2 separate regions of the Homo sapiens genome follow, and region 2 is linked to region 1. The links come from fine-mapping of genetic effects on gene expression. A gene starts in region 1. The other region holds a variant in brackets. All regions are shown on one strand. Distances are between the middles of the regions.

Region 1 (15,616 bases):
TTTAGTAAAGGAAATTTGGGAAACTGTGGCCAAGAAGCTAGAGGAGAAGTCTTGCTGGAGGCCTTTCGGGGAAAGGCTTCCTTGATCTACAAAAAGGAAATGAGGAAAGGAAATATCCTTTTCCCTCCTTTCAGTCTTTAGCCATTATTGTGTGTGGATGTGATACTTGGAGCCTCTGCAGCCATCTTGGGACTGAACTTGTAAAGTTTCCATAGTGAAACATATTGATATGTTTTGGATATTTGTCCCCTCCAAATCTCATGTTGAAATGTGATCCCCAGTGTCAGAGGTGGGGCCTGGTGGGAGGTGTTTTGATCATGGGGACAGGACGGATCCCTCATGAATGGCTTAGTGCCGTCTTCTTGGCGATGAGTGAGTTCACACCTGACCTGGTTGTTTAAAAGTGTGTGGCACCTCCACCCTCTCTTGTTCCCACTTTCACCATGTGATGTGCCTGCCACTGCTGCACCTTTCACCATGACTGAATCCTACCTGAGGCCTCACCAGGAAGCCAAGCAGATACCAGCGCCATGCTTGTACAGCCTGCAGAACTGTGAGTCAACTAAACCTCTTTTCTTTATAAATTACCCAGCCTCAGGTATTTCTTTATAATGACACAAAAATGGCCTAACACACATAGCTATCTCTAGCTCTATAGATTAGATAGATTAGATAGGGATAGCCCAAAGAAACCTTGGAGATCACCAAATTCAATTGCCTCATTTATTTTTATTATTTTTGTTCCATGTTGTTTGGTTTATTAATATTCCCCAATGGAAATCACAACTATTAAACCAACCATTATTTTTGGAAAGTCGTGATAAACATGAATACAATACGATTATTTAATTAGGTGTCATTTTAGAGATAGAAGCTTAAAATATGACCCCTTTATGTAATAATTGCCAAAATAATATCCTACCAGAATTAATTCAATAGCATGGGTAGCTTATTTCTAGAATATTTTAAAAACTGAACCAAAGCTTACTAAGATGGGTGAATTTAATACAATGTTTTTAGCTTTGTCAAAGATAGTACAATTTAGCACAAACTAAAATAAAAATTTACTGTTTGCTCTATGCTGCATCCTATGTTATCAAATAGCTTGACTCAAATTACTTGACTCAAATAGCTTCATACAGTTCTCACAACAACTCAGGTAAACACTGTCATCAAACCCATTTTGTGGATGAGGAAATTGAGGATAGGCAAGGTTAAATAGCTTGCTCAAGATCACAGAGCTAGCAGTAGAAAAGCTGGGATTTGCAGTAAGTAGAAAAGCTGGGATTTGCAGTCTGATTTGCTCAAGCTCTGAACCACTGCAGTTTTCTGCCCAAGAATGAATACAACTTATTCATGGTTGAGGCATGTGGCAAACACTGTTGGATGCCTACTTAGCAACTATTTCCCCTTTTCTGCTCTCAGTCAGAACACTCATTTTGTTTAGGGGTGACTTGTGATCAATTTAATGAACTGTGGCCAATCCTATCTCTTTTTGCCAGTGACTGGTCTGATGTGGCATATGACCATTTTCTGGACAATAAGGAAGATTCTAAAGTCTGGGAAATATTTTTCTCCTTCATAAAAATGGGGGACAGCACTTCCTTTTCTTCCGTTCCTGCTCTGTGCAGTGACCTCTGTGGATGTGATGTCTGGAGCTATGGCAGCCACATTGCAATTAAGAGGTGACAAACCTGGAGACAAAAGCTCACATGCATGTGATGGCAGAGAGCAAACACAAAAAAGAGCTTGGGTCCTTGATGACATGATTGTACTGCTCAACTAACCCTGAAACTATCTGCACTTGAAATTTATATTGAAGATATAGTAAATGACCTCATGCTTTAAGCTACTGCCAAATATTCTGTTCCTTGAGGCCAAAGGCATTCTAACAGATGCAATCTAGACACAGAAAGATGTTTTCCCAGAGTTCCTGCAAAAACAGATGATGTGTAGGTTATGGAGATTTTATCCAGGAATCCATTAGTATAGGTAGTAGTTTAGAAAAAAAATACTCCAAGCTTTGTCTCAGATATGGTTAAATCTGAGCCATCCACATGGTGTCTGTGCTGAATATTTTCCCCTCAGATGCACTGTTTCCTTTTCTGAAACTGACTGATATGAACTATATCAAAAGCCTCCCTTGCCCTCTGGCGTCTGGTTGGACTTGGCCATTGACAAGCACCAGCAGGAGACTGGAGGAGGGTGGTGAGTTAGATATAAATCCCCCAGGTCCTTTGCTGGGTGTTTACTTAGGCTGACTGCATCCGTTGACTGAAGGTCACAGACTCCTGTCAGGTGGCCCTGTGTGTCTGGATTTTTCGGTAACTGTTCTTTCCCGATTGGACAGATCTAGGAGCTGTAGCCTCAGGGTTCCAGCTTCTCTTGTGGTTTCCCACACCCTGCCCACATCTTTGCAAAATGCCATTTGTTTCCTGCCAGGACCCTGACTGATACAATGGTGTCAACGAAATCACTGCAGCTATTGAAGCTTGGTCCAGTCTATCTGAGGTGTGGAGTTTTATAAGGGCTTTCACCTACTATTAAAGGGAGACAGGAGACTACACAAATAAATGTCATGCTGCAAAAGTGAAACAAAGATCATAGCTCAGAGAAAACACTTTCCACTTGAGGGCAAGAAATCAGAGAAAGCTACCTGGAAGAGCCGGCATTTGGGATGAGGACGGATAGGAGTTTTAAAAGAGATGAGATGAAGGGCATTCCAAAGACAGGGAAGAGTGTAAGTCAAGCCGGGGAAGAGAGAAAGCTCAAGTGAAATTTCTGAAAAATTAGAGCTGGAAGGGATCTACGATATCTTTTATTTAATGTTCGTTCTCCCTTCACCTCCTTTAACTGAGATTTGGCCAAGGTCAAACAGCAAGTAAGTAGCATGTCAGGACTCCAACCAGATCTGCTGGCTACCAGGTTAGTTCTTAATAATCCACCTTCTACCTCCACCCCACTCCCTCACCTCAGGCAGTCTGCTTACTTCTCAGTCTCTCCCACTAGACTGTAACCTCCTCAATAGCGGGGCTTCTGTTTTCTTCACCCTTGAATCCCAGTACCTAGCACAATATCTAACACAAAATCGTCATCGTCATCAGCAGCAGCAGCAGCAGCTACCAAACTTTAAGAGGCAACCACCCACTGTCAGGCACTATGCAGTTATTTTGTACATCTTCTGTAATCTTCACTTTTCACTGAGGACGCTGCGGCTCAGAGAGGTTGTCTAATTTGTCTTAGGTCATACAGCAGTGCCGGACTCTATTTTATAATATCTTTCATCAACCGGACTCCGAAGCCCTGCCTCAATGGGCGTTCAGTAACATCTGTTGAATGAACGAATGAACAAGCAATATCCACTCAATGCAAACTATCGGCTGTAACAGGCCACCCTAAAGGCCCCGGAACCTCGGCCGGCTCAGGACTCCGCACGTTGTCTTCCAATCTAAGCACACCGGCCCCTCTCTGCGCCCCGCACAGGCTCAGAGGCTCCGCCCGCGTCTCCGCCTAACTCGCCGGCCACGCCCCCACTTCGGGGAGCTCGGTCCCTCTCGGATTCGAGTTTTCCTCGGCTCCAGCCGCCGCGCAGAGGGCCTCTCCCGGCCCTGCGACCTACAGCCCCTTCCACTCCCCTGCCCCTCCTCTGCGCCCTCCCTCACTCTCCAAACTTCTTTTTTCCACCCTCTCTAAACTTCAGTCATTCTAGTGCCCGCCTCCTCCACTCGCACCGACCAACCAGTGGTCCCCATTCTCGTTGGCGGTCCGCCTCCTGCCCGCCGGGGGCCAATCCCTGGCGCGAGAGTCCAGGGCCGGGGCTCGTTCCCAAGCGCCCAGCCTGTGACGGCAGCGCGCCGGGCGCCGCGCGGCGGGAGGGGGCGGGGCTCTGGATGAGGGATGGGCGAGGGCCGGGGGAAGGGAAAAGGGAGGAGGAGGAGGTTGCGGCTGGTTTGAAAGCGGCAGTTTCCTGGCAGCTTGGGCAGGCGTTGGTCTCCGCGCTACAGCTCCGCAGCGGCCACGATCGATCCCGCGACGGGTCTACGCGCGCTTCTGCGCGCCCCCCACGGATTTTTCCCGTTCCCGGCTCTTCCCCCTTCACCTCCCCGCCCCCCCGCCTCAGCCTTTCCCGCCGCTCGGGCGCTGAGCCCAGGGACCAGCCGGCGGCAGTGACCCCGCCCGAAGCCCCTTCTGGAACCTCCTGGGGACAATTCCCTTTTCCTTTCTTCAGCCTAACCCGCGGTGGCCCTCGCGGAGTCCGGTCAGCCCCGGGGAGCGCAGCCGGGAGGGGCGTCCAAGGGGCGTCTCGCGTCTGGGAACGGCCGGGCCCCCAGCGGGCTGTGGTCGCGGGGTGGGGGCCGGAGCGGCGAGGCCCCCCTTACCGGGCTGCGCGGGCCGCCCAGGGCCCCCGGGCTGAGACGGGGCCGGAGCGGCGCCCCGGCCGCCCGCGCGGGGTCTCCCCCATGGTGCAGCGGGGTTCGGGATGTCGAAGACGCTGAAGAAGAAGAAGCACTGGCTCAGCAAGGTGCAGGAGTGCGCCGTGTCCTGGGCCGGGCCCCCGGGCGACTTCGGCGCGGAGATCCGCGGTGGCGCGGAGCGTGGCGAGTTCCCCTACCTGGGGCGGCTCCGCGAGGAGCCCGGCGGGGGCACCTGCTGCGTCGTCTCGGGCAAGGCGCCCAGCCCAGGCGATGTGCTGCTGGAGGTAAACGGGACGCCTGTCAGCGGGCTCACCAACCGGGACACCCTGGCTGTCATCCGCCACTTCCGCGAGCCCATCCGTCTCAAGACTGTGAAACCAGGTACGCCGGCCCTGCGTATCTGTCTCGGGGTGTTGGGGAGAGGGGCTTCAGGGTGGGCGTCCTGGGAGCGGCGGCACCTCCCCACCGCGTATTGTCCCGGGTAATCTTAGACCTCTAGGGTGTGCCAGACTCCTTGACGAGGGGGAGGGGTGGCGTTGGTGAGTCCCATTTTGCCGAAGGGAAAACTGAGCTCTGGCTTGGCGCGGTTGCTCTGCTAGCTGTGCTAGCTGTCACAGAATTGCGACTAGAAGCTGGGTTTCCTACATTTGTAGCTCCATCTCCCCCCGCAGACAAGAGTTTTTGACTAGAGAAGGCCAGCCTTTTCCTGTGTTGTGCAAAAAGGCCCTTAGGATTGTAACATTTTCTTTGGAACGATCTTACGCATCTTCTAACAGGGAAAAAGGGACTTTACTATAGAGGCACTTGGTGCCAAGGTTACCACCTGGTGTACCTGGAAGGGCTTAGCTGCTTCAGTGTTTCTTGCACTCTAGCAGACATCTCAGAGCTGACAGCCTAACTCTGTCAGTCCAGGTGGTTCAGGTGTCTGAGTACCGATGACGGTACAATATGTGATATGTGGCAGACTGGTGTGTTCTTGCAGGGAGCTGTTGAATAGAGTCTGGGTTTTGCAGGAAGACCTAGGTGCCTAGCGGAGTGAAAGCTTCTGTAACGCTTTTGATTTTACAGAATTTTGTTGAAGTGGTAGGTTAAAGGAGCCTCTGTTGCCCTGGTATCTTTTATGCTAGTAAAAATTGCTGCAAAGCACGTTATGTTTATGGCATACTCGTCAGTTTCAAAGCATTGATCAGAGACAGCATACAGTGAGATCTGATAGTATGTAGTAGTTCTTATGAATTTGTTATAGACAGCATTGTTGGTTTTGTTTCAGCATAGATAGAATGTGGTTCTGTCGTCTTAGATGTTTGTGGGAGAGAGAATTGTGATTGTAACATTATTAGAAACCAAACTGTTTTTCCTTAATGTGCTCTGCTGAGTATACGGTGCATCAAAATATAATGGGCTGGTTAATTGTTACCTGGGCTAGGTAGCAGTCCATCCCTTGATGGCAAAATGCTAGAAAATTCTGGATAAAAATTTAATATGTTATCTCCTTCTCATTTCTTTCTCAGCAGCTCGCTTTGGAAATATTAATATATCTTTAATAGTCCTTGAGCTTAATGGGGCTTGATGGTTTGTGGTGCAGTTTACATATGTCTGTGTATTGTGGATATGTATACACACAGACTCACATGCTCCTAAGGTCATAATTAAGATTTTCTTTCTATAGCGTATTCCATCGTATTCATTTTAAGTGTATGGGTTTATGTGGTGAGGTTTTCTTTTTATTGTTGTTAATTTTTTAAAACTTTGGCAGACTTTAAACAGCTTTTTCTGTATAGTTTTGAGAATTTGTAAATTTTTTTCTTAACTCTAACTTTTACAGCCATGTGTGAAAGGCAGAGGAAAGACTTTTGGGGCTGTAATTCAGCTAGTCAGGCACTGTCTGTAATATGCAAAAGGCTATATAGACAGCATTTACTAGTCTAGCTGCCAAATCTTAGTTCAAATCCCATGAGTTAGTGAATAGTGAGAACATCTGCATCATTTCTTTGTGTTTTGTTTTGATTCGTTAGGGCATAGATGAGAATATAACTTATTTTTAGAAATTTTAAAGTTGATATATTGACATGGAAGCTGGTGTATTCTAAATTATTGTGATCTTTTTTAGAAGACTGAAGAGATGGCTATTTCATAACATTAGTCTAATCTACCTGTTATACATTTTTCTCAACCTCTATATTATATTTAACAATAATTCAAGATTTAGAGCATTAGTAATATTAACTGTGTTGAATAAACATCCTATGCCCCCGTATGTAGTTGACATTATTAGAGTAATACAGTTTTGCCCTCTTGACAGCCACAGACACTGTTCTATTTTAAAGATTTAGCCAAAATAAAGGGAATAACGTATTAATGGCCACAGAACATTTTGTAGTCATTAGTAATAAAGTTCTGAATACTACACTTGTTTTTTGAAGAGACACTTTGTGTCAGTAATTTCTCAAGATACCATTATGTCTGTGTTATTTGAGATTAATATTGTTTCTAAGCAGGTTGTAATTTAAAATTTTTAATCTCTTTTAAAAATAGTATTCTTAGCTTCTTAATAGCCTCATGTTAGGTATTATATTAAATGGCTTTCTTAAATGGCTTTGCTTAAAAGCAACATTTGTTATAAAATAGCAAGATTTTTGCAGGTTAAACAGACTTTAAATACTAGAAATTAAGAATTTGAAGAGGTTATCTGTAGAACTTTTGAGTTTGATTAAAAACAAATATTATTTTCAGAAGAGACAAAGATTCTTTATTGTGATTCATTTTGGAAAGGATGAAAATAGAGTAAGGGAATTTAAAAAGAAACTTGCCATAAACATTGTTTTATTTTTTGCTTTTATCTAAACTTTGTGACAGAAATTGATTTTTCAATTTAATAAGGTATTGTAAAGTGTACTTAGCACTCTCTTGTCTTGACTAGTTGCTTTTTATTAAACCATATTCATAACATGACATTTAGAGACTAGCACAGTGAAAGAGTAAAATTTAACCATTTTTGTAAGATGTAATACTAATCGGAAATGTTCTCATATTGTCTTCTGACAAAGTCCATGGCAGAAGGATGAGCTGGGTTGTAGAACATGGCTTTTGTAGCACTGATTCTTCCTAGCCTTCTTTTCACTTAGGTGCTAAGGGTCGCCCTCCCAAAGCCAGTACTATCAGCCAGGTGACTTAACATCTTTCTGGCAGCTACTGTCTTTAGCTTTGATTTTTTTTCCCTTTTTTTGTTGTTATAATCTTTAATAGAGAATTGAAAGTTACTCTTTAAAATATGGTTTCTAATCTGAAGCTTTTCCTGAATCAATTAGGTAGTTTCTTATTGTTTTAGTGTAGTACTTAGTAGTCAGTACTTTGCCCGCTTATAGAAGAATCTTTGGTTTCACCTATTGCTTGGCTCGATTAGTTACTTGTTTCTTAATTATGACCCTGTTGTTTATTTTTCTGCAAAGAGAAAAGTTGTCATTTGAGTTTGAACTTTGTCTTTTCCCAGTAGTAAAGTTGAACTTTGGACCTCTGGTGAAATTGTTTTGTGATATACTACTATGACTAGGTTTAGTTTCTTTGATTTTACTACAGAGTATATATTCTTAAACCATTTCTATTCTGATTAATATACAAGTAGTGAATTTTGTTCTGAAATTCCCCAGACTCTAATTGTGCAGAGTTTTATGCTTCTTCATACACCTTTAAGCTCATATTTCAGCAGTTTGCTTTCAGTAAGTTTCAGTAAATTATGTGTATTTTATTCCAGAGATTAAGTATCGGTACAATAAATACATGAAATCATTGTCTACTGCCATATGCACACATTACATTCAACTACCCTAAGCAAGTAGTGTATCCAGGGATGGAAATCATAGGAAACAATGTTATAGTTTGTTTAAATAAAAACCAAGTTGAAACAGTTCCTGGGTAATGTTAAAGGTAGGTAAAAGTCTTCACTGCTGACTCTTTGGGACATCCAATTTGTAAGGGAGTTTTGTTAAAATGGGCTAATTCCTAGAAATACACTTCCTGTTGGTGAAGAAACACTACTGGATGCTTTAAAATAGGAAATATTTATGTTATTCAAATAAAAATAATGCTGTGCCTTTCTTATCTCTTGAATCTTTTTGTTAGTTTTTTTTTTTTTTTTTTTTTTTTTTTTTAGTGGGATATTTAGGATTTTTGATGAGTTTTGTTTAGGTGGTTGTATTATATGAGGATGGGAAAGGTAAGAGAATTTAGAGTTAATTGTTAGCCTCCCAGGCTTACAATACATTTCTTCGTACCTTTTTTAAAACAAGAAAATCTAGAGACCTAGAGATTATTTTAGAAACAATAGAAAAAGAAGCAAGCCAAGCCCCTTTGCTAGGGAAAGTAGCATTACATTTTGATAAACCTTGAAGTTGAAAATTTCCTATTTCAAATTTTGGTAGTTTTTTTTTCTTTTTTCCCTAAAGCTCTTAATAACTCAGGGGTTCAGGTTTTGGATTCTGTTCATTGACACCTTCAATTCATATGAGTAATGGGCTTACACCTTAGCAATTGCAAGCTGATTTGCTTGCATGATATTTGATGACTTTTATTATATCATTAACATCTTTGTACTTAAAAAATATTTTCTCTCCATCATTCTCTAAGAGTACTATATCCAAATATCTCAGTATGTATATATGTATATACGTGTGTGTATATATATATTATATGCATATATGTATATGTATATACACACACACATACTTTTGTTAACTTTTCTTGTATATCATTTTCTAGTATATCATTTTGGGTACTTTATTGATCCTGCCCTCACCCCCAGACTTTTATAATTTAGTTTGTAAAACTTTATTTTCCTAGGTTGAGGCATTTTAATAATTCTTTAATTTCTTGCTATCTTACTGGTACAAACAAATACTTAACATTTGGCCATTTGATTTTTAGATGATTTTAAATTTTATTCAGTTTATTGCTAAAACTGATTTTCATGTAACATAACTCTGTGTTCCTGGGACGTATACATTATTTTTCCTCTGAGATCCTGGCACATACTTTATAAAACCTTTTGTTTTGAGAGACAAATTTTTGTGATTTTTTTTCTGCTAATTTATGTAAACTGGCGACAAAACAAATCTTCTAAATTCATTCAAGTGTCTGACTTATGAAGTCAGTGCCTAATCTTCTCAAGTGATAGTTTCATACAGAGTCTTTACTATGTAACCCCTAAGTGCTTTGTAATTTTTGGGGGGACTTAGTGTTTTGGGAGTATGTTGAAAGAGAATCTTGTTTTTATGGATTACTTCAGTATTATTTACCAATTTCAAAATCTGTGAATGTCAGGGTTGTGTGTGTGTGTGTGTGTGTGTGTGTGTGTGATTTGACAAAAGATAAGTGTTTTGGTATTGAAGACTAGAACCGTTTCGCCTTTAATAAATTATTTTTTGTCTTCTGAAATTTTGAGCAATAATTTTCTTGAAATACTACATTTTGGTAGATAGAGTGAATGCCCTGAATTTAAAACTATTGTCTAAAGTAAGAGTTTCAGAAACTTAGAAGCTGGTGTTATGAGACATGTTTGTAGGGAAAGAGGCAAATCCATTCATTGCTCTTCTAGCTAATTTTGCTAACAAAATATCTTGCTAATATTTTGTTTTTGAAGAACAACTATTATTCAGAATGTTTTCCAAGAAAAGATGCATATTTTATTTAATACAGAAAAAATAAGAAGTCCTATTACTGGCACGCATTCATTCCCTCAGCAAATACTTAGTGGTGCACCCACCAAGTGCCAGCATGGAGCTAGCACTGGCGATATAAACATGAGTCAGAAATTGTGTGTCTTCAAGAAGCTGGCAGTTTAGTGGGAGCTTAATGACTCATTGGTAAGGAATACCTGTAGTAAGGGTTTTGCCTTTTTCACTTTTCTGCCAGTGTTTAAAACTCTTTAGGTAGGTCTTAGTATGAATTTTGGTGAAAATGAGACTAACTGGCTGCATAGTGTGCTATTCGAAAAAGTAGTGGAGCTGCATTTTAGAAAGGATTTGGGTTCTCAAGTCATCACAAAAAGAGGGAAATCAAATATAAGCAAAACTGTCTTTTCAAAAAGCCCTTAAATTGTGCATAAAATACTATATTGTACTGTTTGTAGGATGAGTCCAAATGCCACTTTTCCACCCATGTTGGAACCAATTGCAGTTTTTTGGTCGAATACCAGAAGAAGTAATTTGCTTGCATTAAAAAGATATGTTTTACAAAAAAACTTTTAATTCTAAGAAATTATCCTCATCTAGGTATGTACAGTGAATTTATGGAAATTAAATGTGTACATGAAGTGAAAGAATGATTTCTTTTCTTTTTTTCTTTTTAATATCTTGGTAGGATCCACGCCATCTGCCCTTGTTTTCTGACTTGAGTGGTTGAGGAATGAATTGTGAATAATTTTGAACTTGTTTGGGTTTTGAAAGATGACAGATTTTGGTTGAGTGGAATTAGGATCTTTCCAGTAGTAGGTAAGAAGCAGAGGAGGAGAAAAACACAGGGCAAAAACGTTCCATACAGAAAGGTTTACAGTGTGGTCCATCTCAATAATTTTGTGTGTGTTTGTGTACAAGGGCACAAAATCCACATTATAGAATAATTGGAAATTATTTTGTACAAGGGCACAAAATCCACATTATAGAATAATTGGAAAATAGAGGGAAGATCATATTAATTGTTTAAATGTATAGGTAGTTCCATTATGAATAGTCTCCTGTAAGTTTTTTTTAAATGTGTTATCTCCTCGAAATAATGCTCTAAGGTGCTTAATGCTATTTCTGCCTTCAGCCTCATTCCACTCATAATGTTATACTATGAATATTTTTATTTAACCCTTAATGTACCATTAGTTCTGTTCTTTATGGTTAATAGCCCTATTTTTGTTGTTTTGGAAGTCTAGCCAGTTTTATGGGAAAACACAATTTGCTAGCCTAGGAAAAAGGGAATTGAAAAATATATTTTCATCTTAATCCCGCCTTCCCTTTTGTTACAGCCACAGCCGACTGGCTTCCAGTGAGAAGGGTGGCATCATTATATCTCCATTCTTCCCTGAACCCTAGCAATTTATCCTGATGCAGCCACTCAGCTGCATTGCAGTGGTTTCCAGGAGCAACCCACTTACCTGCAGCCCCCACCCATTTCAGTCATCCCAACATGGCCAGGGGAACATAGATTACATTTTGAGGACCATAATTTGACTTATGACATATCTAAATACCTGAGAAAGGACACGCTGTCCTTATAGGTGATTAGGTACTTGTTTTATTAACACATACTGAGAGATATTGTTTTAGAGACTCTGTATGGGTTATGAAGGGTTAAACTTTTTTGCCATAATTTGTTTGGAGTTTAGGGTTTGGTTTTAAAAAATATCATGCAGTGGTAATTGGAAAAAATTTTGTTTCAAATTTATTAATAATTAAGATCTTTTCTATTTGGAGGCTTCCCTTTTTATTGTCTTGGGTATACAATGTGAACGGTAACCGATCTACTTAATTAAAACTTTCTGGCATTTTAGCCTCTTTGCTTTTGCTGGTTTTTTTGCACATAATTTGAAACACGTAATTATTATTTTCTGGCTTCAGGGGAGTTTGTGAGAGGCAAGCCTGTATCTCGTTGTTCTGATTGGGAATTACACATGACTATGAAAAATGGGATTTTACTATACATAATGGCATTTAACAGAAGTAGTTTTATGAAAGGAAAATATCCTACAAGGTAGGAAAAAAACAAGTATTTATTAATGCTTCATTTTCTGAACTTAAATAGAATTAAGCTAAATTGGCTTTGCTTTTTCCTCCAATAAAATAACTTTTAAAAATTCACTTTAATGGAGTAGTTCCAGAGATATATTACTCTTTGGATATGGTTATCTAGTTTGCAGCAAGTATCTTGTGATATATAGCTTAGATCTCAGCAGGAAAGAAAAAAATCTTAATTTACATATCAGTTTCTGTATTTGTAAGAATTCTGTAGCAAGTGACAGAAACGCTGTTGAGATTAATGTAGGCTAAGAAGAAATTTATTGACTTACATACATTAAAATCCAGGCATAGATCAGTAACAGCTAACTTCTGTTCTCAAGTGTTGGTCATTAGAATTATTATTTGGTTCTCTTTTCTTCTGGGTTGGATTTTTTCTCAGCTAGACTGTCAGTGTAGCGGTGAAGGTAGCTCTGAACCCCGAAGTCATACAGGGTCCTTAAAGCTTCTCATCTTTTTGGAGTCTAATAACAAATCTCATGCAGGGACTTTGGCCCTGTGCCCATCTCTTGGACCAATTATTGTAGAGAGAGGAGAGGACAATGAAGTGCCATGATTGGTCAGGCGTGGGGACATGTCTACCCTTGCAGCTGGGTATAAATAGCATAATATGATTAATAACTGTAGCAGAACCCCAAGACGTAAGGGAGGGGGAGTTCCTGAAAGGGTGGGATGCCGAGGAATCAATACTACAGGAAATGATCTCTTTTAAAACATTTAATCTCTCTTACTTGGAGGCCAGAAGTAGTACACAGTTGTCATAAAACTATCATTTTTAGAAAAACAGATATTGGCTGTAAACCAAAACTGATTTGATTTCTAGGCACTGCTTTTACTCAAATATTTAAATAAAAAATTGCTTTTATTTAAAAGTTATTTCTTTAAAAAATTGAAATACTGATACCTTAATGTGCACAATTTAAAAGTATTTCTTGTAATTTTTATTTAATTTTCTTTAAAAAAATTAAATAAGATTCTCTAAAATCAATGCTGTTGATTTTTAGGGAGATGGAATACTTTGGAAGATTAACAGTCTTTGGCATTGAGAAAAATATTATTAGCCTAGTTAAACAATTACGTTTTTAAAACAATTTTATTCTACCATTTTGAAAATGAAATTCTAAACGAATTACTTTCCAAGGTGTTTTGCTTTTAAAACAATGGTCTTTTTAAACACAAATTGAGACAATGTCATTATTGTAGTATTTCTGAGGGCTCCCTAATAATACTTTTTAACCATGATTTCGTGGAAATTATGTGAAAGGAACTACTTCACTGACTCTTATATAAAATGGGTATATAAGAGTTTTGAAACATTACTTAAGTATGGTGTCATGTGGTAACTGTTTAATTACCAAAAATGTTATTTGGCAGATATTGCAGGATAAAATCTGATCCCCTTTTTAAAGTTTTTTATAGCCTCCACTGGGAGAACAGAGGTACTCAGAGCAGGGGTAGACAGTTGAAAGAGAGGGGTGGGTGCTCCAAATAACATTTCATACTATTTTTATATTCTATTACTGTATCAATGTCTTCAGCTTTGGTGCCATAAAAATAATAATTTTAGTAATAACTTTGAGTTTATATATGCCATGCACAGTAGGAGTTTTGTAGTTTTGCCAAGTGTCATCTGGTAGTTGGATCTTTAGTGAATATTAAATGTTGGTAGATTATTGGTGAATGCACTTACTGTACATAAAAATGAACATTCATGGAATTGGGTGTGATTTGCCAGTAAGAATCATCATAGCAAGTACTTTGTATTGTTAGATTAGTTTGGGCACCCTTCGGATGACTTTAGACCATATTTGGAAAATTACTGCTTCTACTTCAAAAGCCTGTAATAATTAGAGTTCTCCAATATTAATTCCATATATTGATTAATTAAGCCATGAAATCTAGTAAAATGATATAGTCTTTATTACCTCTGTTCACAGAATTGTATCTCAATCCAACTTGGTAGCTTTCAGCAGAACACTTTGTCAAAATATTATTAATTTTAGCTAAGAATTCTATTCACTAATTTCAGTGTTTAAGTTAGAATGCACATGCTAGTGAAAATTTTAATTTCCTTTGAATAGAATTAGATTTGCTAACTAGAGCAATCTCACAATGTAATGCTGATGACTGAAATGACACTTCAGCCTCCCTTGGGTGACAACCCTAAGTTTAGACAACCTTACTCTAATAGGAATATTGAGGACTTATCACAACATATTAGCTGTCATTTAGAGTAATAACTTCCATGTCAGGGCATTTTATACCTGTCTTATTTGGTTTATAAGGATGTATATATTAGCATTCATGTTTTCTTATAAAGAACTTTATATATTTTTATTCTCTATGAGTCAGATATTATCATCTTCCTTTACACATGAGAAAATTGAGTTAGAGAGATTAACACGTGAAAGTTCACACAGACTCACAGGAAGAATTATGAACTGACACAGCGTTGAGTCTTTCTTTACTTTCTGGATAGAATATTAGTTCATTATATCCAAAAAACCTGTCTTCCTTTTTCTAGTAAAAGGAAAAAGCACAATTCTGAATTGTTTGCGTGGGTGTTAAATGCAGTAAAACACTGGGCAAGTACTTACAATAAAGGCTTCACTGCTTGGTTCTGTTTCAAAACAGAGTTTGTGGCCGTGCAGTTTAATCTGTACAGCTAAGCTGCATGATAAAGTAGTTATTTCCAAGAATTGCTAATCAAGCAGAAAGTTAGTATTCTTGCTACATTTGTAAGAGAATATTTTCAGCAGAATATTTTTATTGCGGAAAATATTCTCTATAATATGTAAAAGCCCAGATAAATATATTAGATACATATTTTAGGATAAATATACTTGGGAAAATTGCATATTAGAAATAATATTTTGTTCTTGTGTTTCCTTTCTACTTCCTCTGTAATTCACTCACCAGGAAGGTGTTAGCACATTTACTGAGAGCCTAGAAAATGTTCTGGTGAATGTAGAAAGGAACGTACTTTAGAATTAGGGATCTTTTATAAGTATGCAGACCCTTCTCACAAAAGTACACTTTGCTTGAATAAAATTTAGCTAAGCTAGGTAAAAGAATAACTCATTGCATTTAAGTAGACCTTTCTCCTTCTAGACTTCGAGTATTGCACACCTAAGATGGATCCTTTGAAGAGGCAGGTAAAGCAGGTTGTGGATTGTTGGAACCTCTTATTCTTTAAGTGTTTACGCTGTTATGTTTTCTCTCTGGGCTAAAGTCAGTCACTTGAGTGGAAGGAAACACAGCAATCCAATCTTAGTATATGGATAAACAATTCGAGGCTTAGCAATGGCAGAAGTCATAGCATAAGCATGGTAGAGCAGAGACTAGAACTCAGATTGTTTAGTTCCTTTCATTGTTCTAGTTTCTGGCATAAGAATTTGTGTAGAAAATTGGCGAAAAAAGGACCTG
Region 2 (15,616 bases), 110 kb before region 1:
TGGGGGTACAGGTGGTATTTGCTTACATAAGTTCTTTAGCAGTGATTTGTGAGATTTTGGTGTACCCATCACCAAAGTATACACTGCACTATATTTGCAGTCTTTTATCCCTCGACTCCCTCCCACTCTTCCCAAGTCCCCAAAGTCCACTGTATCGTTTTTATGCCTATGTGTCCTCATAGCTTAGCTCCCACATATCAGTGAGAACATACAATGTTTGGCTTTCCATTCCTGAGTTACTTCACTTAGAATAATAGTCTCTAATCTCATCCAGGTCATTGCAAATGCTGTTAATTCATTCCTTCATATGGCTGAGTAGTATTCCATCATATGTATTTTTCATAGTTTCTTTATCCACTCACTGATTGATGGGCATTTGGGTTGGTTCCACAATTTTGCAATTGTGAATTGCCTCTCATTGCTTTTTCTTTTTTTGAAATAGGGTCTCACTCTGTCACCCAGGCTGGAGTGCAGTGGCACAATCGCAGCTCACTGCAGCCTCTACCTTCTGGGCTCAAGGGATCCTCCTGTGTCAGCCTCCTTAGTAGCTGGGACTACAGGCATGCACCACTATGCCCAGCTAGTTTGTTTTGTTGTTTTTTTTCAACTTTATTTTTTGCACAGATGGAGTCTTGCCATGTTGCTCAGGCTGGTCTCTAACTCCTGGCTTTAAGTGATTCTCCCACCTTGGCCTCCCAAAGTGGTGGGATTACAGGCATGATGAGCCCCTGCGCCTGGTCTGTTCACATTGTTTTGAAGCACTTACAGATATGTAAGTGCTTCATATGACTTCATCCCTAAATATTTTGGTTTGGGTCTCTAAAAGATAAGGACAGATTTAAAAAAATGCCCACAATAACCTCCATCATCACATCTAAAACTAAAAACCTACAATCCTACAATTTCTTAATAGCATCAACTATTGAGCCCCCGTTCAAATCTGTAGTGTCGTGTGTTTTTGTAGATTGAATCAGGATCCCAATCAGATGCACATATTGCAATCTTTTCTATTTCTTTTATTTTTTAACTCTTTGAGATAACTGTAGGTTCATATGCAGTTGTAAACACTAATGCAGAGAGATCCCTATGCCTTTCACCCAGTTTCTCTCAATGTTAATACCTTGCCTAAAAGAAGTACAATATCACAACCAGGAAATTGACATTGATATAATCTACCAACCTTACTCACATTTCAACTGTTCTACACATGCTAATTTGTATGTGTGTTTAGTTCTATGCATTTCTAATCATGTGCAGATTTGTGTGACCACTACCACAGTCAAGACCCAGAACAGTTCCATCACAAAGGTCCCTCCTGCACAGGCACCTTCTTCCTGCGTCTCCTTCCTAACCCATTCACCTGTTCCCCATCTCTATAATTTTGTCATTTCAAGAATGTCATATACGTGGAATCATGCAGGACATAATCTTTCAAGATGGACCTTTTTCACTCAGCATAATTCCCTGACATCTATCCAAGTTATAGCATGTATGAATAGCTTGTTCCATTTGATTGCTAAGTAGTATTCCATGGAATAGATGTATCACAGTTAAACAGTCAACCATTCACTCACTGAAGGACATCTAGGTTGTTTCCAATTTGGGGCTATTATTAACAAAGCTGCTATGAACATTCATGCATAGGTTCTTGTGTGAACATAAGTTATTATTTCTCTGGGATAAATGCCCAAGAGTGCAGTTGCTGGGTTGTTTGATAAGTACATATGTTGTAAGAAATTGCCATATTCTCTTCTGAATGGGTGTACCATTTTACGTTCCCACTAGTAATGGATGAGTGATTAGTTTCTCTGCATCCTTACTAGCATTTGGTTTTAGTATTTTTTAGTTTAGCTATTTTGGTAGGTGTGTAGTGATATCTTGTTGTAGTTCTTTTTTAGTTTTAGTATAAAAGCTCACTTTTGTCCTAATAGAAAAGCTTATTGTAAAAAACATGGATAACAAGACAATCATAAAAAGCAAAATAAAAACCATCCATAATTCTCTTCATTCAGATATAACTACAGTTAGTATGTTAGTATATATTTTTCTAGTATTTTTCTGCAGACTTATCTATTCATCTAGCTATTTACATTTGATAAAACTAGAAACATAAGATACAATTTTGCATTCTATTCTTTCTCATAATGTTATGTGGGGAATATTCTTATGTATCCTATGGCATATTATTTGAAAACTTTTTTTTTTTTTTTTTTTTTGAGATGGCATCTCACTCTGTTGCCCAGGCTGGAGTGCAGTGGCACGATCTCGGCTCACTGCAAGCTCTGCCTCCCAGGTTCACGCCATTCTCCTGCCTCAGCCTCCCGAGTAGCTGGGACTATAGGCGCCCACCACCACGCCCAGCTACCTTTTTTTGTAATTTTAGTAGAGACGGGGTTTCAACGTGTTAACCAGGATGGTCTGGATCTCTTGATCTCGTGATCCACCCGCCTTGGCCTCCCAAAGTGCTGGGATTACAGGTGTGAGCCACCGCACCCAGCCAAAAACATGTTTTTAATGGCTGTATGACACTGTATTTTATGGGACTAATTTTTAACTATTATTTTTGGACATTTATGTTATTTTCAATTTGGATATTATAAACATTTCTTTGAATGTCATACATATACATGGATTTTAACTTACATCTCTAGTTAGTTCTTTATAATAGATTGTATAACTGGGATTATAGGTCAAAGTGTATAAACATTTTTAAGACTTTTGGCACATACGTACACATGTCCAGAGTGCTTTCCAGGAAGATTACATTTTTTACTCATCAGAGTGCATATCTCACCAGATCCTCAATAACAGTAAACATTTTTCAACTTTGCTTTTGTCTTTTTAATTTTTGTTTTTAATCTTTTTATCTTTGCCAAGTTGATAGAGAAATTAATTTGCATCGTTTGTTAGTAAATGAAGTTGAAATCTGTTCATAAATTTTCTTATCTATTTGTATTTCTTCCTTCATTGTTAGTGTTTGCCCTTGGCCTGGTTTTCATTGGTATGTTCATCTTTTTCTTATTAATTTGAAAAAAAATCTTTATATATTATGGATAGTAATTATTCTTTTCTTGTATTTGTAGAAAATATTTTTCTTTGTTGGTCAGTTCCCATTTTTCTGGCTGTGAGATTTTTTTCACTCATTTCTTTATTCTAGAAGCATTTATTGGATGTATTTTACATGCCAAAGAGTGTGCTAGTAACAGAATTTTTTAAAAAAAAAACTGAATATCAAAGTTCACATCCTCAGGGAATTCAGAATTTAGTGAGAAACACACACACATAAATAAATGTTTCCATTATGCCTATTTCAAAAGGAATAGATATGGAATTCCGTGGGACACAGAAAAAGGAAATATAACTGGGCAGGCTTCTTAGAGGAGGTAATGTTTCAGCTGGACCCAAAGAATGAGCAGGAACTGGCTAAGTGCAGAGGTGGGAGAGGAAGTCCCAGGCAGGAGGAGCATATGCATAAAAGCAGAGAGTCAAGATGGTGCCTGGTGGGAGCAGTGTAGCTGAGCAGGGATGGGAAATGAGATAATGAAAAAACTCATCTTGTTTCTGAAAATACAGAAACTAAAGATATTGGAGCAAAACAGGAAGTTATTCTACATCAAGGATCTGGTCAGGGTCTGTGTTTTTCATCTGTGGAGTAACAAGCCCAAGGGAGACTTATTGCCCAGGAACAACCCACTTCTGCACTCACCCCCACACCCCACCTTAGCCAAGGGAGTCAAGGGCTGAAAAGCCCCGAAAGATCTTGCTAAAATCACAGCAATAGGCTCTGCTGCATGGCCTTCTCTTTCTCTCATGGTTAAAGGATTTGGGATAGACTGGAAGATGGATAATGGGAAGGTGAAATGGAATCTGGCTATGGATTTCTTCTCGAATGTTCCTACTCTTGGCCACATACCTGCCTTGAACTCAGGTTGAAGAACCCTAGAGGTTGCTGATCTTCATAAGTGCAATGAGTGGCAGACATGCTCTTTCTCTGGTGACAGCTGAGACTGTAAGTAGCTAGGCTGTCTCAATCCTCATTTCATGGTGAAGCATTCCAGAGAAGGCAGGACATCTGAGGGGCGTGACATCCTTGCCTGCTTGCTTTCTTCCTGCTTGTAGCCTGAAGCTCAAATAGGTAGCCTGATAGCAAAGATGTCAGCATTCTCTCTTTCCTCTAAATTAATTCCTTTATAAATCAAGGTGCAGCAGGTTAACACTGGCAAAAACAAAAACAAAAACTACACTGATCCAAGCTTGTTATTCTGTATGGCCAAACATAAAGGGTATATTCAAAGTATTAAAAATATACAGTATCTATCTCTGCTTATTTCATGTCTTTGTCCTCTGTACTCAGACATGTCAAAGGTGACAGCATTCAGGATGTTAACGAAGAGAGCCAGGAGAGGAAAAGGTGGATGAACTCTCAACAATCCACTTGTTAGAATCAACAATCCTTTCCTGACCTCCTTGTCTCATCTACCTTGAAAAAATCTTCAGGATTCACCCAATCCACTGTCCCCGATTTGAAGGTGACTTTTTTAAAGTTTTATTTTTAAAGTTGCCCTTTCTATGCTTTTTAGACATCCAAGTAGCTGTAACTGTTTATCTGGTGATTTTTTTTTCCTATGGCAATGGTCACACATTGATAGACTGGCTCTTGAGTGGGCAGATTGCTGAGTGATATTTACCTGCCTGGTGGATGATTCTAACATATTTTGCGTGTACGTCTCTTGGGAATCTGGAACTCAATGTATCTATCAGAGAAATAGGCTAGGGCAGGGGAGCACTGCATAATCTCTAAACTCACCCCCACACTCCCCCAGCTTCCCCAGCTCTAACCATTCTCAGAATCTGTGAATCTCAATGACGGCTTTTTCTGGGAACTTTCGGAAACATAATGCTATCTCACAAAAGCCTCCAGGGATGCCTATTGGAGCTCCTTCACTTCAAAGGAGAGGTTCTTGGTCATTTTGATAACAGTTGAAAAAGCACACACCCAGCAGTTTCAGGCTTTTCTCCTTTACAATAGTTATGTTTTTAGATCACTATCCTTCTCAGAAATTTAAACACAGGATGTCAATTGCAAGATGGTGGAATAGAAAGACAGCTGCATTGAAATCTGGGGTTTGAAAAATAATCCAAGGTCTTTTTCTCTCTCTCTCTTTTTTTTTTAAATTTGAGTTTCCCCCTGAGAAACCTTGGCTTTTGAAAATAAGGCCTCCTCCCATGGAATGTTGTTTCATAGGTGGGATGCAGCCCTCATGATTCTTCACTGAAAACATGGAAAGCAAATAGGACAATCCCAACAGCTCTGAATTGGAAACAGTAATTCAACGTGTTGGTATTTCTGGAGCTTATGAGAAAGAAAATCTAGGCTGAAGGAAGAAAAGAAATAGGATGAAAATAATGGTAAGAAGTGGGGGAAGAACTATCCGCCAGTTACTTCACACCAATTATTTCTGTTTTCCTCACCATCCTAGGAGGCAGGAGTGATCCCCATTTCACAGAGGAAGAAACCAAGGTTCCAAAAGGAAAAGTAACTTGCTCAGCATCACACAGCTGGAAAGTGTTGAAGTATGCCTGGAATCAGTCTAATTAACACCACAGTCTCTTTCCACTTCTCTCTGTTATCTGTTTAACAACACCACACACAAAACTCTGATCTGAGGAAAGCTATTTTTTGCGTGTGTGGCTGGGAAGGCCCAGGAGCACACTTGTGAGCGCGCTCTCTCTCTTCTCCCCACTGCCATTGTGAATTCGTGGTCAAATTATCCTGGTGGGGACACTATGAATACTTGAATCTGTTTTTATTTTTCTCTAGGTTTCCTGATTTTTTTTTTTTTTTTTTGGCTGGAGTGCAGCAGCATGGTCACAGCTCACTGTAACCTCAAACTTCTGGGCTCAAGCGATCCTCCTACCTCAGCCTCCCAAGTAGCTGGGGTTACAGGTGCACACCACCATGCCTGGCTAATTTTTTTTTTTTTTGTAGAGGTGGGGTCTCGCTATGTTGCCCAGGTTGGTCTTGAACTCCTGGCTTCACATGATCCTCCTGCCTTGGCTTCCCAATTCCTAATTTTCTTATCCTGATGGAGACAAACTATTTTACTTCTGTTCCTTTCAATAACAATAAAAAATCCTGAAAAGACCAAGAATAGGGCCCCAGCAATTTCCCCCTAACTGTAATATCTGTAACTATTCCCCCTAACTGTAATAACTATAATGTAATGTCAGGGAAAGGTACATATCAAAGCTAAGCCACTTTCATTTGCCCTAAGCTATTTTGGGGACCATGTGATTGGTTTACTGTTAACTTTAACTATAAAAGAGCAGTTAACTGTAGATATTTATAATCTTTTCATCTTCAAAGCACTTTACAGTATTAATTAATTAAATCTTAGCAACACCTTTGATTAATTCCTTTTTATGGATGTGGGAAAAGTGGCATGGAAATAATAGAAAATGCCCTTGGCCATGATGGAATCAGCATTCCAAGGTAGGATTAGAATTCAAAATTTTCTGTCTCCACCTTTCATGATAAAACCAACAGACCAGTCTCCTGTTCTGATGCCTTGGTGGAAGAACATGATTTGGCCAACTCATTCTTTAAATTCTTTTAAGAAAAGAACTTTCTCAAAAGTGCCTATCACCTCTCCAGTGCTCTTTCCTATTCTCCATGGCACTGTGCCATAACTTTATTCACTTCTTAAATCAAAGGCGTTACTGGAAAAAGTGAACAATATGCCCAATTCTTATGGTTCCACAGAGCTCCCTTGTGTCTCCCCTTGGAGTCTATTCTTAGACCTACTGTTTGTTCAGGAATCCAAAGTAAGTCAGCTTTATCTGGCAACATCTCCAAAGATTTCTTCCTTCTGTATGTCCAGACAGAAAGCTAAGCAATAATTCAAAGACAGAAAGGGGTCAGCAATAACCATTTTCACAGCTACCAGGCAGAAACTCATCATCAATTTCATCTTCAACAAAATTTCCTCATCTTTTTAATGTTGGAAGAATCACTTGAAGTGTGAGATTTATGGGCAGCTGTTCCAGCCGGGTGAGAGTCTTGCAGACAGGTATCAGACGGTTATTAGCATCTTGTGTTCTAAATTAAAGGAGACGACTTGTCTCTGAATATACACTAGAGCCTTGGAAGGTTGGTAGGGATGGAGTGGGCATTGAAGTGCCTACGCTCAACAAAAACTTGGCAGAATCTAAATAACCTTTAATGACTCCCTTCTCTAAAAAGTTCTTATTCTTTGCTGAACTTGATAGCTTTGGTATATTTCAGGTAAGATTATCGTTGTGACAATAAGAACCTTATGTCAAAACCCAGTCCTAAAATTTGGTAGTGCTAGAAGGTTGTATGACAGACACCCTTTGTCCTCCAAACTAAATCAAACTCAGCAAGTTAAAAAGAATAACATGGAAGATTTGGCTTGGAAAACCTGGATTTGAATTTTGGTTCTGCTTCCTACTTGTTACGTGATCAATTAACCTTGTTGAGCTATTGTTTCCTCACTCTAAAATGGAATGGTAATAGCATTACTTGCATTACATAATTGTTGGAAAAATTAAATGAAAATATTTTCGGCACTCTAAAAATTGTTATCAGTTTTAGTTAATAATAATGGCCAATATTTATTGAGCCCTTACCGTGTGCCAGACACTGTGTGTGAGGTATGCTTTTATGTGCATTATCTGCTTTATCATCTCAACGACACTATGAGATAAGGACTGTAATTATGCCCCTCTTATGGATGCAGCAACAGAGGCCTAAAATCACCTGTCTAATAACTGGTGTAACCAGGATTCACACCCAGTCTGGTTAGACCCATGTTCTTGACCACTACACAATATTGTCTGTAATCTCCAGTTCCCTGCTGGACATTTCCTTTCAGATATTCTGCAGTTCTTTCAAATGTAACCAGTCTCAAACAAAATTCACTATCTCCTCTCAAATTATAGTCTTTTCACTGACTTTCTTATTTGCAAAAGTTACCTTTTTTTTTCCTCCCTGGCTTGAAATCTCTGGGTCAT[C/G]TGTGTCTGTGTCTCTCTCTTTTTAGCTGAGGAGTCGCCCTGGTTATTCAATTGCACTCTTGAGACAGCACTCTACCCATTCCCTCTAATTCCTTTTGTCACCACCATGGATGAGAGCTCATCGCCCCCGCAAACATGGATTGTGCAATAACTTCCTAACTTGTTTTTCTACCTTTAGTTTATCCTGTATACTACCTGCTAATTAATCCTAAAATATCATTTTCAACAGTTACCTCCTTGATCAAAAACTTTCAGTTGCCTATGGGAGAAAGTCCATGTCCTGACATTCTTGTTCCTCCACAGCCTGGTCCCACCCCACCTTCCAGCCCTGAGCATGCCCTGCACTTTCTTGCCTTTGCACTTTAGTTAATAATGTTTCTCTTCTCCTTCCTCCTCCCCTTCTCTACCTACTGAATTGCAAACTCTCAAGATCCAAATCAAATCCTTTGTTGACTTTGCCATTCCCAAATATTTATTTCTCCCAAATCAGTAAGACTATACCACCCACCAACCTGTTTACTACTACCCGTTGCTAGTTAATTTTTCACAAATAATGTGTATATCTTATCTTACCTTTCTGATGGGAGGGAGAGGATAGGAAATGTGCCTTATATTTCTTTACCTTCCACACAACACCAAGTGAGTATCTACTGTAAAGCCAAGTGCTGTGTTGCATACTGGGGATACTGAGAAGAACAAGATATATTAAGGAGCTCACAGGCTAATAGTATAGATCAACATGTAGACAAATAGTCACAATTGGGTATGAAAGAGCTAGTAAAGATATGCCTCGAGGACTCTGGGAACACAGAGAAGAGCAATGACAAGCAACTAGAGAAATTGGTTCACAAAGGGAACTTTGAGCTGACTCTTGAAGGTTGAGTAGAAAATAAAAGCTCTTTAGGTAGAGAAGTAGAGAAGAGCTTTTGAGGGGCAGAGAACACCATGTTCAAAGGTCCAGAGGCATGTATGGTGTGTGTGAAGCCTGGTGAGATAAGAGCAAGATGTGGGAAAGAACACCAGGAGAGGAGCCTGGAAAAATAGGCAGCTTCCAGATTATAAGCACCTTTTCATGCAAAGAATATGGGAATTGATCCTACAAGGTAGGTAGGAAGCCAAGGGAGGTTTGTAAGTAAGGAAGTGACATGGTCAGATTTGTATTTTAGAAAATTAACTCTGGCAGCAGCATGTAAATAAATCGCAGCTGGAGACACTTGAGGGAGAGACACCAAGAGAGTTTAGGGGTCTGGACAAAGGCTAGGCTAATGGGGATAGAGAGGTCTGTTTACCTGAGGTATGTTAAGGGGGAGCATAAATAGACTTAGTCTACCATTGGATATGGTGAGTGAGGGAGAGAATGGGAGACTATGGATCACTAAGGTTTTTAGGTTAAGAGACTAGTAGTGTACGCATGACCCTATTCATCGAGGTAGAAAATACAGAGGTGAAAGACTGGGTTGTTTTGGCTATTGCTGCTGTTGTTGTCATTTCTATTGTTTGGGTGGGGTAAGTAATGAGGTTAGTGGCAGATGTGTTAAGTTAAAGGCACTTGTAGACCATTGACAAGGAGATGTTGAGTAGCAGGTAAATTTTTCTTGTGCCTGTCTCACAGCCTGGCACAGAGTGGGTACTTAACAAATGTTTGTGGAGAAACAAAATGAGAACCACCCAGACTAGGCATGTAAGCAATACATGAACTGACTAATTACCCATGTAAAATCATACCCTTATTTTCATGGCAAGGAATATAATATGTACTAGTTCTTCTAGTGATGAGAGATCACACAAAAGTTACACTGAGAGTCCTCAACTAGGTCATTGCCATGGCCTGGTTAGCACAGACACTCTGCTTTCTCTGGCAGACATCATCTGAGGGACAGCATGAACCAGGGAACCTCAGAGTACAGTGACATTGATGTATGAACACATAAACCTTGCACAAGGCCTGTAAAATTTCTCTCAAGGACACAGAAAACAATGGATTTCAAGGTCCATAAATGTTGACTTCATATGAATACTTAAAATGAGACATGGATATTTAGTACCTTTTTTAAACTTAAGAAATCTGAAATAAATCCTGATAAATCATATCCTATTCCATATGTATAACTCTCTTCTAGTCTCTTATAAATAACATTCTCAATTAATCCCAGAAAAATGGGGGTGAGCTAGGGAAAAAGGATGGAGAGAGGGAAAATAGAAATGGAAGAGAGAGGGAAACAAAAGCCCAACAGAGAGAGACTTGAGAAATGGCCTGATGCACCCAGCAGATTCCAGGCCATTCAGCTTCAGTCAGCAGATATAAGTGATGTCCTGGGACATGGAATTTTAAATATTAGCGGACATGTTTCAGTAGTACAGCACAAAGCCATTAATTTCTTTGGCATTTTCAGCACTTCATTGCTGCTAAGCATTCCCAGTATGTTCAAGTTAATAGAAAATTTGCAAGCCAAGGATATTTTATGCCTGCATAACTCTAGTTAAAAACACAGTATTGGGCAATATTTATAAAAGGTATAGACAATGTTCACACAGGTCCAACAAATGCTATTTAAAAGATGATAATGCACTTGTCTCACTTTAATTGCTTTTTCTGCTACTAGATTCTAATCACAATAGCAATATCATGCTCAAGGGCACGTTTCAACCCATAATATAAATGGCAGTCAGTGTGATAATATACATTTACCTTTCATGGTGATGCAGAAAGAAAGAAATAACATGTGCTTAAAGTACAGTTGGCACTCAATAAATTGTTTTGAACTGATTACAAACATGGGAGGCAGTTTCTCTGGAAACAACTGTTTTGCTTCAGAATACTACAAGGCTCTTCCTCCCCCATTCTTCTCTTCAAGTCAGAATTATAGGCTGTGGATTTATGATATCTTCTAGCAGAATTCTCCCATTTTCATAGATGAAAAATGTGATAAGCATGCATAGTTAGTACTCTCTTGGTAGCACGTGACAGAAAACAGAACACCAATCAATTTAAGCAAAAAAATTAAATTTATTGGCCTGTGTAGATGAAACGTCCAGGGCGGTAAGTATAGTTTCAGATGTGGCTGGATTCAGAGCTCTATGTTTCACCTTATATGGTTGTCTTTCACCATATTTTTGGCTTTCATTGCAGAATCTAAGTGCCCCGGTAGAAAATGGCGGTGCCAGCCCTCAGCTTCCAGTAGAGCAGAAGTGTCTGCCTCAGTCCCAGAAGCCTATCGCATTTCATTGGCTTCAGTGGGGTCACGTGCCCCTCGGGCAGCTAAAATGTGCCGGTGGCGGCTTAATCTAGGTCGTGTGCCTGCCCTGGGGAACCAGCATCTCGCTGTAAGTGCACTGGCTTCCTGGAGAGGAGGGGTAGCTGTCTCTGTGCAGAATTGAAGTACACTATAACACCATGAGAAGGGAGAGTGAATCCTGGGGTGGGGAACCAATAAATGACCTTGCGACCTTATGTAATATTTAAATTAAGATTTAAAAACAGCCTTTGCATCCCAAGGTAAAATCTTCCTCCATCTCAAAGAAGAGTCCCCGTTAGGGGAAGAAAAAAAAAAGTTATATATATATAGCAGTTGTTTGAGGACAGCTGAATGAAGCCGTTTCTCGCATTTGGGTTTCTTCCTTTACCTTCCATTCTTCTCTTTGTTACCACCAGCATCAGTCAGAATCCCCACAGTGTCTTCTCCTCCAGAACAAAGTATTCAACAGATACTCATTTCTGATTCCTGTAAGAAATGTTAATTGAGTCTGGGCTTCTCCACTGAATCCTGAAAATTTTAGAGTATGTCCCCACCTTCGCCACCCACAATCCTGACAGTTTTGGTGTCACCTTAATCTAAGAACCCAACCTAATCTTCCAAGTCCGCTTGCATTTTGTTTGTTTGGGGAAGTTAACGAGTATTAACAGCTGTTTATTTGGACCTGGATGGGTCAAAGGCCCTGGATGTGGGCCAGAACCACATAGAAGTCAGAGGCTTTAGTATTATCCCTCTGCTCTGAATGCATCCATTTCTTTTGTTTCTCATTATTATTTTGAGCCCTTCAGATTCTTTCAGAGTTCATTTTCCATTCACTTCCTTGTCATAAATATACATTGTGCAGGCATTTTTCTTTTTAACTGTGTCCCCCAGATTTTACTTGACCACTTGGCTGCATCCATTTGCCAGATGAAAATCTATGTTCTTCAAAAACTGCTGAAAATGCCAGTGTAGTCATGCATGCTAAGTGTCAGGAGGAAGAATTGGTGCTGCAACACACAAGATGATGTCAGAGAGTTATTCCTAGGAGCACAGCATGTCCTTGCTGCCAGCAAATCTCTCTCCTGCCATTCAGAAATTCTCACTTTGTTCAGGTGAAGGTTCTGTTGCCACACTTTTTTGAAAATTGCACAGACTCCACTTCACTTCTCATTTATCCAAAATCAACTAAAATGAATAAGTGGGCTTTCTGGATTTGCCACACATTAATCTCATTCTTTTATGCAGTAAAATGCCTTTGCTGGAAACACAGAAAAGGGGAAGACATAAATAACTGCCAATGTATCTGTAAATTTTAATTTTAATTGTATTAGTTATCTATTGCTTTGACCATCCCAACATTTAATGTCTTAAAACAACAACTGTTTTATATGTTCATTATTCTGTAGGTCAACAGTTGGGGCTGAACTCAGCTGGTCTCTGCTGATCTCTTCTGGGGCTATTTTCACCTGAAGCCATTAATGCAGTTGCAATCATCTAACAAGTCAGATGGGATCTGATAGTCTGAGATGGCCTGACTCATATGGATGGGGGTTAATGCTGGCTGTTGGCTAGGTCATTGTTTCCAGCAGTCTTGCTTGGGTTTCTTCACATGGTCCCAGAAAAATTCTTGGCAACAAGAGAGAGAGTCAAGCCCAATGGGCAAGCATGCTTCAAGCCTCTGCCTCTGTCAAATTTGCTAATGTCCCATCAGCCAAAGCAAGTCATATGGCCAAGCCCAAGTCAATGTGGGAGGGCACTACTCAAATGCATGGGTTTGAGGTGGTGGAATCCATTGACAACCATTACTATAAAAATCTATCACATTAAGTTAAACATCTACATCATTTCTTTTCTTAAAAATGAGATTTACTTGGGAAGATGTCAAGGCAAACTCATTACCAGGAAGAACATCTGTCAGAGATTTACAGATACAGAGCAGAGATATAAAACTTTTATAGATTTATTAGCACCAATGAAGCATAATCTGTGCACTGAGGCATTACCCCAACTGTAAAACCAAATCCACTTCAAAAACAGGAGTATAGGCCTTGAACAGTGGCTCATGCCTGTAATCCCAGCACTTTGGGAGGCTGAGGTGGGAGGATCGCTTGAGCCCAGGAGTTTGAGACCAGCCTGGGCAACATGGTGGGCCCTATTTCTACAAAAAATTGTGAAATTAGCCAGGCATGGTGGCTCCAGCTACTCAGGAGGCAGGACAATCACTTGAGCCCAGGAGGTCGAGGCTGCAGTGAGCCATGCTGGCACCACTACACTCTAGCCTGGACAACAGAGTGATACCCTATCTCCAAAAAACCAAAATTTAAAAATATACTTAATGCTGGGCGCGGTGGCTCACGCCTATAATCCCAGTACTTTGGGAGGCCGAGGCAGGTGGATCATTTGAGGTCAAGAGTTCAAGACCAGCCTGGCCAACATGGTGAAACCCCGTCTCTACTAGAAATACAAAAATTAGCTGAGTGTGGTGGCAGGCGCCTGTAATCCCAACTGCCTGAGAGGCTGAGGCAGGAGAATCACTTGAACCTGGGAGGTGGAGGTTGCAGTGAGCCAAGATCCCGCCAATGCACTCCAGCCTGGGTGACAAGAGCGAGACTCCATCTCAAAAACACAACAAAACAAAACAAACAAACAAAAAACTTAAAAAAAACAGAAGTCTAGGCCTGTATATTGATTCTGCTTAGATATTTAATATACAATTGCATTTAAGGTCCTTTCAAAGGACTTCTACAATAGGGGAAGGTGAGACATTCATTGGGTTAGATAAATCAAATTAGTCATCCCAGTTCTGGTAATAGGGAGAGAACAAGGCAACTCTGACAGTTAATAGCAACTAGCATTTCCTGAACACTGATTCTTAGCCACTGTGTGTGGTTTACTTTCTTTAAGCCTTGAACAGTTCTGTGATGTGGGTAGTTATCTTATGTCCATTCTACAAATGTGGAAACTGAGGTCTAGAAAGTTTAACTTACCCAAGCACACACAGCTTAAATAGAAAGGTGGTGACTTGAACTCTGTCTGTAGAGCCTCTGTAATTGTCCACTAAGTCATGCTACTTACTCCATGACATGGGACAAATGGATGGAGTCCATGAAATGATGTCTCTCCCAGGCCCAACACTTCAAATGTATGGTCCTGTTGCATGTTGCTCCTTCACGGAATGCATTCCTTCTGGTAAGACCTCTGGACTTCCAAGTCATAAACAGGGAGTCCCAGAGGGCCTGAGGGAGGGAAATGGCTTCCATACAACATGAGAATTGATAATAGGGTTGATTGTTTCCTACTTGGATTATACTGGGATCCCTTATGTTTCTCAGTGAAGTAGCTGCTGAGCCTAGCATATCTGGGCTTAAAGATGTAAATGATCCTCTGTTTATGCCAGCACCTTCTCATCAAATAGCATTATTGAAAATCAGAGATTTAGAATGACTGCCCTCCAACACATCTTAACGGAGTTATTCCAATAATATCGATAAGTGCAGATGATGATTAGAATGTAATGAGGGATGAGAAATACTATTCTGGATTAAGTCAATTTTCTCATAAACATTTTCATAAAATCATAAGTAAATTTAGGCTCTGTACTTTTGTGGTCTATTCCCAAGTCCCTACCTCTACCTCCAGGAAACTTGGCCTCCATTCTTTCATGTTTCCTTCTACACACCTTTAGCATCATACAGATTTTAAATTAGGTTTTGTGAAATGAGGCCCCACAGATTTTTTACCATTGTCCAGTCATATGCCTTTTGGCAAAGAGAAGCTAAGAAGCAACAGCACTTGTCAGAGAAGTATCCTTACAACTGCCTTTGCAGGCGGATTGATTTAGCAGAAGAGAAGGCAGTGTTTAGCTAATTTTGAAGAAGAATAAATGCATTAGATGGTATTCAGTGGAGCATGATTTGCATAGCATATAAATTATATAGAATTGCAGTGCAGAAAACTCAGAGCTTTCCAGTGGTGAATGAGTCTAATTTGTAGCTATTTCTAGGGACTAAAACATTCCGAAATAATAACTGGAAGATTCACTTTCCATTTCACAATTTGTGGAACACACAAGATAGGTTAAAGTCTTTTTTTATGTTGTTTTCAAGTAAACCTCTTGACTAATTCATTTTGATTTTAAAAACATAATGCATTGGTTTTTCCCTAATTCTGCACTGAAGTTGTACACATATTATCTGCCTCAATTTCCAAGCTTCAGTTCATATTTATGTATTTATAAAGTCTGCTGTTCTCAAAATGGAAGAAATCCTAGAAAAATTAATTATTTAATGAGTTTCAATATTCAGATTTGTGAGTTTTCACTTAGAATATAAATTTGGAGGCACATT

Direction of the effects. Alleles are on the strand shown, and positions count from the first base shown. SD is a standard deviation of normalised expression in the study named.
In carriers of allele G in region 2, the expression in thyroid of the gene that starts at base 3,962 in region 1 tends to be higher than with C alone (small effect, 0.37 SD a copy in GTEx).

Evidence for each region.
Region 2: its variant is fine-mapped to the expression of MAGI3 in thyroid (GTEx, PIP above 0.99).

Annotation. Positions count from the first base shown.
Region 1 is chr1:113,386,554-113,402,169 of GRCh38, forward strand. It overlaps MAGI3 (membrane associated guanylate kinase, WW and PDZ domain containing 3), which reads left to right and starts at 3,962. Exons shown (of 21, transcript NM_001142782.2): 1 at 3,962-4,796. The coding sequence starts at 4,481. RefSeq lists silencers at 2,294-2,538, 3,528-3,577, 3,608-3,967, 4,378-4,507, 4,568-4,727 and enhancers at 4,408-4,907, 4,958-5,007.
Region 2 is chr1:113,271,831-113,287,446 of GRCh38, forward strand. No RefSeq gene overlaps it. Among named protein-coding and RNA genes, the nearest start is that of MAGI3, 110 kb to the right of the region's middle. The variant C/G (reference allele first, on the strand shown) is at 8,035.